3 separate regions of the Homo sapiens genome follow, and regions 2 and 3 are each linked to region 1. The links come from fine-mapping of genetic effects on gene expression. A gene starts in region 1. Each other region holds a variant in brackets. All regions are shown on one strand. Distances are from middle to middle. Region 1 holds the start of CSGALNACT1 (chondroitin sulfate N-acetylgalactosaminyltransferase 1). Region 2 overlaps CSGALNACT1 (chondroitin sulfate N-acetylgalactosaminyltransferase 1). Region 3 overlaps CSGALNACT1 (chondroitin sulfate N-acetylgalactosaminyltransferase 1).

Region 1 (2,500 bases):
AAACACCCACTTCCCTGTTTCCCAAGTCTCAATTGAATTGCAGTGGGTATATTAGGTCACGAGGGTGAAGAGTTCACTCAGGGTGTGGGGTGGGGATAGGTCCACCTGGGGAGTCCAGGTGGGAAGCAAAACTTGCTTCAGGGATGCTTCCTGCAGGTAAGCAGGAGCTTAATGGAAACCGAGCTGCTTCAAGACTGTGCCTATAGCCTCAGGACTGCCTACCCTGTGCCCACAATAAAGTCTGGTGCGCCGGAATCTCCCAGATGGAGACTCTGAGCCAGGCAGTAGAAGGAGCCATGGCCAGGTAGTAGAAAGAGCACTGCCTCAGGAGTCATAGGACTGGTTTCCAGCTCCGGTTCTGCGGTGGCTCAGCCCTGGGGCCTCTGCAAGTTGCTTAACCGCATCTGCAGGTGATGACCTCTTCCAGTCTAACTGACTCCTCCTGAGTCCCCCTCAATTACACTGAAAATTGGCGATCCTATTTCCCAACTCCCTCTCCCACAGAGATGCGCTGGAGCACTTACAGATAAAAGGCGACCTGTGGCCCTGGAGGGTGCCTGCCTGTGTGTGCTGGAGGTGGCGGTGGATCTTTTATTACCCAACACTCCACTTGCCTTTTTAGCCTTTCCTCTCCCTCTTCTCTCCTGGCCTCCCAGTGGCCGTCAGGGGTCCCTGCAGACATCGCTTACCCACAGTGGTGCGGTGTGAGAGTTACAGGGGTTCCTGACCTTCGCTGTAAGTAAAAGCTCTCTAGGGGAGGCGTTATAGCTGACCAGGGCAGCAGAGACCGCGACTAAAGCGTGAATTCCCCGAAGTGCGATTTACAAAGTTTTTGCATGGAAGTCGGCGCTCGGCGGGGAGGGCAGCCAAGGGAACAGAGCGGGTGGAGCAGGGGGATGGGGAACTCTGTCCTGCAAGAGTAAGGACCCCATGGAGATTGGACACCTCTCTCCTGCAACTCGGGCCACGCCACAGTGTCCTAGTCTCTAAACTTCTCCGGCTCTTGGTGTCCAGTCACGCGTAAACCGCCCCTGGTGTCCGAGCGCGGCCCCTTCCGAGAGTGACAGGCTTCGGCCAGGGCGCCGCTCCGACGGGCGCAGGGACGCACTGCAGAGAGGCCGTGGGTGACGCGGAGGTACGCGGCCAACCGCGACCCCAGCCCGGCCTTGGCCGCCCCCGCCGGACCTACCCTGCGGCGGGGCGCCAGGCTTGGCCGCTGTTGCGCCCGCCCGCCCGAGCCGCCGCCGCCGCCGCTGCTCCCCGCCCCCGGGGTCCCTGGAGGCTCCGCGGCTGCCGGAGCGGGAGGTGGAGCCGAGTCCGCGGCGGCCGCGCAGGAGGGAAAGTTCAGCGACGGCGGCAGCGGCCGGAGCCGGGCCGGGCAGCTAGCAGGGCGCTTCGGGTGAGTCGGGTCCCCTCCCGGGCCAGCCGGGCGCGGTGTGCCGCGCGGGGGCGTCAGTGGCGCCGGCAGATCCCCACAGCCCCGCGCGCCTAGCTCGCGCCCGCCCACCCCGCGACCTCGGGGTGGCTCGTGCAGCTGCGGAGGACGGTGCCGCGCCTGGCCTCCCTCCGCCGCTGCCCGCCGGGGGCCCAGGGCACGGGCAGGGGCCGGGGACCGGCTTGGCAGGCGGAGGGCGCGGCGCCTCCAGGTGGGCGCGCGGGGACGCGGAGGGAGCTTCCAGGGAGGGTCCGGGGCCGCTGCGCTCCCGGGGTCGGTTTGGCTTCACCAGCGTTTCTCGTGGCCTTCCGCTGTCTGATTGCTTTCTGCAAAACCCACTGAAAAGTAGCCTTTCCACGTGCCGCGCGATGACTGCGGTTATTGTATTATTGTGGCTGGGATGGAGAGGGTGGAGGGGGCGTGACGAGGGTGGCCGGTGGGCAGCGCGCTCGCCTGCCCGGGACCGGGCTAGTGGGGGATGTGGCTGAGGGTCACCGCTGCCCGAACATGCCCAGGGGACGTGCGATCGGTGGGCAGAAGCTGTTCGAGGGCATGATCTTGGGGTGGGATGGGGGCTAGAAGGGCGGGGAGGAGAGGAAAGCTGTAGGAAGCGGAGGCAAAGTTGTTTGTTTCCGTCGCACTTCCTGCACCTGCATTCCTGTCAGAGATTTTGAAGTTATCTTTTCATCGATGAGCAAAGAATGGTGAGAAAGGAAGAGATGTTAACAGCACTGTGCCTGCCAAAACAGTGAGCCTCGGGAAATACTCATAAGTGAAATACTAATAAAAAGCATGGAGTGGTTAAATTTCACAAACTCCACTTTTCTTCTGGTTTCAAAGCCTTGGTGCAGTTTTTACTTAACGTCATTAGATACGTCTAGATAATAAAGGTAATGAAGTGTTCTTTCACGGTTTTTTTTTTTAAACTGGAAATTTAAATTTAATTCTGTAGGATTTCGTCGACATTGTTCCTACAAGAAAGTCAAATTACCTTGGTGTTACTTGCAACAGTGAGCATTAATAAGCCCTGTGCAGTGCTGAAATGTTGCTAATTGGAGGGAGAAA
Region 2 (2,843 bases), 91 kb after region 1:
TTTTGCATTTTTGAACAAAATATAGGAAAAATCTATGAAAACTATTTTTCATTGTGTAGATGACCATGTTTCATATTTGGGAGCCAGTTGTATTTCTCTCTCTGGAAAAGTTAAAGGATGTAATATATGCTGGTCAAGTTTTTATATTCTTACTTTCTAGCTTCTTCTAATATTTGAATGGTTAGGTTTCCTTCAGTTCAACTTCACTATGCTCATTTTCACAGTTGTGATCTGCGCTTTAATTCTATTTCTTCTTAAAATATTTAGTTGGAGGAAATTCCATGATCGTTCATTGAGTTTAATACTTTTTTATATGCTTTATCAGATTTTTGAATTCTTACCAGTATGTAATACCCTTATAATGAAAATATGTGGATGGTATAATCTTACATTACATTTTCTGTGGCTTAAGTTAGTGATTTATGGCCTATGATTTTTACATTTTTGATCACGAAGCAGCAAATGACCTTTGCAGCTCTTTGAAAGCTCTCCTGATCTGAGGAAGAGACGTTAGTCTTAGGGTTTCAAGTACCTTCTCCTTACTGCCGTTTTGTGGTCATGTTGCATTAAGGGCCTTGACTTGTTCATAATTCATCAGCCTTGGTTCAAAGGGGGTGGAACACGACTGACTCTCTCATTGCAGTTCATTGTTCTCTTACCGTTGTGAGAAGTCATAATTAAATCACTTCACTCTTTAAGCACTAAGGTAGAATAGAAATAATGTCTTGATTTTTGTTTTTTGAGACAGGGTCTTGCTCTATTGCTCAGGCTGGAGTGCAGTGGTGTGATCTCAGCTCACTTCAGCCTCAACCTCCTGGGCTCAAGCAGTCCCCCTAACCTCAGCCTCCTGAGTAGCTGGAATGAGGGGCATGTGCCACAACACCCAGCTAATTTTTGTATTTTTTTTTTTTTTTTTTTGGTAGAGATGGGGTTTCGCCATGTTTGGCAGGCTGGTCTCAAACTCCAGAGCTCAAGCGATCCACCCACTTCTGCCTCACAACTTGCTGGGATTACAGGCATGAGCCTGTGCACCTGGCTGAAATTATGTCTTTTGATATTGTGATGAGATTTCTTTCCCTTTCTTTCTTTCTTTCTTTCTTTCTTTCTTTCTTTCTTTCTTTCTTTCTTTCTTTCTTCCTTCCTTCCTTCCTTCCTTCCTTTCTTTCTTTCTTTCTTTCTTTCTTTCTTTCTTTCTTTCTTTCTTTCTTTCTTTCTTTCTTTCTTTCTTTCTTTTTCTCTCTCTCTCTGTCTCTCCCTTCCTCCCTTCCTCCCTTCCTCACTTCCTCTCTCTCT[T/CTT]TCTTTCTTTCTTTCTTTCTTTCTTTCTTTCTTTCTTTCTTTCTTTCTTTCTCTCTCTCTCTCTCTCTCTCTCTTTCTTTCTTTCTTTCTTTCTTTCTTTCTTTCTTTCTTTCTTTCTTTCTTCTTTCTTTCTTGTTTCTTGTGTTTCTTTCTTGTCTTTCTTTGTGTCTTTTCTCTCTTTCTCTCCCGGGACAGTCTTGGTTTGTCAATTAGGCTGGAGTGCAGTAGCACAATATCGGCTCACTGTAACCTCTGCCTCCTGGGTTGAAGCTATCCGCCCACCTCCTCTCCCTCCTGAGTAGCTGGGATTACAGGCACTCACCACCACACCTGGCTAATCTTTATATTTTTTAGTAGAGACAGGGTTTCATCATGATGGCCAGGCTGGTCTGAACTCCTGACCTGAAGTGATTCACCCGCCTCAGCCTCCAAAAGTGCTGGGATTACAGGTGTGAGCAACCACACCTGGCTGAGAAAATGTTAATAGATGAATTGGGTGAAGTAGCTAAATAGAATAGGAAGAAGTAGAAGAGACAGGGTTTTCTTCATGGGAGCTGGAGCAAGTTGTTTGATTTTGTCTGGGCTTCTATTCCTCTAGTTATAATATGAGGACAATAGATGGTTTTAATTTCCCTACAGCACTCAGATTTTAAGGTCTGACGGTGAAAGTTGTGGCAAGAACACTGTTAGAATACCTTGTTCCTTTTCTAGCATTCAAATCCAGCTTCCGTGGAGCACCCTCCTTTCACCAGTGTTGTACAGGAACAAAGGGAAAAATCTTGAAGTCTGCCTGGATTTAAACTAGACAAACAACTTGAAATAACTCCAAAAAGATTAAAAATAACCCAAATCTGGACTGCCATGTGAGAGCTGTGATGAAGAAAGTCTAAAACAATGAGGAATCTTCAACTAGAAAAAAGATGGAGAAAATAAGAAGCCTGGAAAATCGACAATGTGGTTAGATGAATGTAGGTCCATTGATCTTGTCCTGGGAGGTGAGACTAAGAGGAAGTTGAAATGTTAACTGTAAATGAATAGAGAATGTGTTCTGTTTACGTAGCGAAGAACACATTTTTAGTTATTCATTATCCCAGGTGTAATTAACCAAACCCTTCTATTATGAATTAAGAGAGAGGAATGGGGAAAATTGACGTCCTTTGTCAGGCTTAGAAGACCACATCTTCCTAGGGTACAAGTTCATCTTTGGTTCTGGTCGCAGAACCAAGTTCTGTGCTGGGTGGACTGTGGTTTTGCCCCAGGCTTGCAAGTCAGTGATGACATGGGAAAGTCCGTGGCTTCCTGGGCCTGATGTTGGGAAAAGGCATGGTGAGTCATCCTCAGGGAGATTTCAACACAGGCTGTGAATAAAGAGCATTTATTCCGTCAAATGTTTACCCGCAGCCTGAGTACCTTTGAGGCAGTTGCCTCTTACTCCTTCTGAGTTTTGGCCCCGGACGTTATCTTAGGAAGCAAGCTGTTCATAAACAGACATTTGTAACCACTTAAAATACTGTGTTGGAAGCCCAAAAGAGCCGTGGCATTTAATGTAA
Region 3 (2,843 bases), 67 kb after region 1:
TTTGTTTTTGTTTTGTTTTGTTTGTTTTAAGAAATTGGGCCCTGTTTGATTAGTGGTATTTTCCCTTTTGGTCCAAATGACCCTGGTAGCTGAGGTTGGCTGTGTTGTCAAAAACAGTGAGATCTAGAAGCCCTGCTCAGCGGTGTTTGGGAGGAGGCCTGTGCATCGTTGGCTGAAATTTATGGGGAACTTCCCAGGAACCCAGCTTGACCCCTTTGCTCACCACCTGCTGCCTGGAGCATTACCCCCACACTCAGACCTATCTGTTTTCTCCTTCGGGCGTGGCCTCTTGCCTTGGCTGACATTTCATTTTATGATAAGCCGCAGAGAGTTTTATTTGTGTTTTTCTTCTTTTCTTTGAGACTAGGTCTCACTCTGTTGTCCAAGCTTGAGTGCAGTGGTGCAATTGCCACTCACTGCAGCCTTGAACTCCTGGATTCAAGCAATCTTCCTCTCTTGGCCTTCCTAAGTGCTGGCATTACAGACATGAGCCACAGTGCCCAGTGCCATGGAGATTTTTAATAAGGCAATCTTTATTAATGGTTGCTGTGGTCATTGCCAGTGACCTTCACAGAGTCGTGAAATCTTTTGCTTATCCCTGATCTCAGACATCTGAACAACAAACTCTAATTTCCCAAATTACCCGTTGAGCAAAGTAGTCCTTAGGAAGACCTAGGCTTGCAGGATAGAAAGGGTGGGATAACACACCCCCTCCTTCCATGCGGAGTTTCAATCACATATTATTAATTCAGAGTATCGTTATTGCTCCATCTGCAAACTGCAAATGTGAATTCCAGCCATGTATTTTTAAACAGCTCTATTATGATCAAGCAAATTTGAACCTCTCATGTAGTTTATTACAAGTGGGCTTTGGTTATAGAGGAAAAAAATCTGTTTTATATATGTTTTCTATTTTGTCATTTTTGGTAAGCTGTAGTCAAACTCTGAGTTAGGAGAAAGATGAGCTCTTTGACTATTTAATAGTTCTATATATCACACTTGTGGTAGCTTTTGTCATTTTTTTTTCTTAGCAGAAACAGAATGTTAAGGCCCAAAGTAGAGATATCTAAGTCCTGGGAGCAGGATGATATTAGAAATACTGATGAATTTATAATAGTATGGAGAATTAATCTGGATAACGAAGATTTTAAAATAGCATTACTTGGCTATAAATGCAGTTAATGTTGCCTTCTGGAAGGAAAAGAGGTAAAATTATATCTTCTGTTACTTTAGCAATTGATTTGAAAAGTATTCATGTATTAATTGTCCACTCAATATTAGGAAATGTATTAGAATATAACTGCTTTGAACCTTTTCCAAAAAAGTTTTATCCAGATTGTAGTAAATTTATACCTGCAGTTGTCTCTACAATATAGTGTTTTATTTGTTGAGTCCTGTTAAAATTCAACACATTTAGTTTGAAACTCAAATTGGCTTTAATGATTAGTGATTCATGAACTGGGCATCATTTCATCTAAAGATGCAGAAAAGGGACTCTGGATCAGGCATTGGCGGTTGGTTTTTAAAAGGTGGCTTGAGCAGGAACAAGAAAACAGCATAGCGCAAAAAAGCAGATTGTTAATATCAGGTTACTCTACGTCACTTTCCTTGTAAGGGTTCAAGCACAGGGGACTTCTTTATGCTAAAACTTGCTGTTTGGGGATTTAACTAGCATCTC[T/A]CTCTCTTGATTTCTCAGGTCAGATAAATAGCTTAGTTTTGGTTTGGTGATGTGGAACTTTAGCATGAGTGACTCTATTTTGGTTGGATCTGTTGAAGCCTAGAGCAGGAGCTCAGTCTAAATCAATGGCCTCCTATAAATCTTAATAGTTTAATACATAGAAAATTCTCAGCATCTTTCTCATAGAATTTTTAAGCAGAAGCCAGAATCTTTTATAGTCGTGTGTATCAGTTATTTATTGCTGTGTAGCAAACCTCTTCAAAACAGTGGCTCAAAACAACAGTTATTGAGTTCGGAAATAGGCAACTTGGGCATGGCTAGGCATGGAAGGTTTGGGTTCCATGCAGTGTCAGCTGGGACCGTTCAGGGGGCTGGAGAATCCTCTTTCAAGATGGCTGCTCAAAAGGCTGTTGACCAGAGCTCAGTTGGGGTCCAGGGCCGGGGTCCTGGTTCCTCTCCAAATGGCCCTCTTCATGTAGAACACGCCATGGGCTGCCTGGACCTTGTCATACCATGGTAGCTGGGTTATAAGAGTGATTGTTCCAGGAGAACCAGGTGGAGAACTATAATACAGTCTTTTATGACATCGTCTTGGAAGGCACATGGCATCGCTACTGCTGTGCTGTACTCCTTGGCCCAGATTGCAGAGGACGGGGCAATAGGAGATGGATTAAGAGGAGAATCAAAGATTTTGGTATGTTTTAAAACTGCCATACTCCATTAGAAGCCTCTCATTAACATTTACCCTAGCCAAACTGTGGCTTCTAAATGAAAGACTGATCACTTGTTGCTAAGGTGACACTGCACTGTTATCCATAATTACGTGGACATGCATGGCTGCACGTCCAGATAGGAATCAATTTTGTCCCAGTTAGGCGAGTCCTGAGCAGTGTTCATTATCTTCGGACCATGGTGCATGTGGAGGAGGTTGGCGAGGGCAGTTCTGTTGGGATGGTAGGGATGGAAGTCAGACTGCTGGGCTGCTGGGAACAACTGGGAGATGATGATCTGGAAGCAGCAGGTGTAGACGATGCTCTCAGAGTGCTTAGCTGAGACAGGAAAGAGGGAGAAGGATACAGTGGGCTGAGAGAGCTTTCATATTCCTATCTATTTTATCAGCTTTTTCTTTTTTTAAAATAAAGATGAGAGAATAGGGTGAAGGGAA

The links.
Region 2: its variant is fine-mapped to the expression of CSGALNACT1 in whole blood (INTERVAL, PIP 0.98).
Region 3: its variant is fine-mapped to the expression of CSGALNACT1 in whole blood (INTERVAL, PIP 0.93).

Annotation. Positions count from the first base shown.
Region 1 is chr8:19,756,085-19,758,584 of GRCh38, reverse strand. It overlaps CSGALNACT1 (chondroitin sulfate N-acetylgalactosaminyltransferase 1), which reads left to right and starts at 1,308. Exons shown (of 9, transcript NM_001354483.2): 1 at 1,308-1,399.
Region 2 is chr8:19,665,334-19,668,176 of GRCh38, reverse strand. All of the region lies in intron 1 of CSGALNACT1 (chondroitin sulfate N-acetylgalactosaminyltransferase 1), which reads left to right. Among named protein-coding and RNA genes, the nearest start is that of CSGALNACT1-AS1, 12 kb to the left of the region's middle. RefSeq lists an enhancer at 2,421-2,843. The variant T/CTT (reference allele first, on the strand shown) is at 1,294.
Region 3 is chr8:19,688,608-19,691,450 of GRCh38, reverse strand. All of the region lies in intron 1 of CSGALNACT1 (chondroitin sulfate N-acetylgalactosaminyltransferase 1), which reads left to right. CSGALNACT1-AS1 (CSGALNACT1 antisense RNA 1) reads right to left here. Exons shown (of 2, transcript XR_007060841.1): 2 at 1,889-2,727. Among named protein-coding and RNA genes, the nearest start is that of CSGALNACT1-AS1, 11 kb to the right of the region's middle. The variant T/A (reference allele first, on the strand shown) is at 1,679.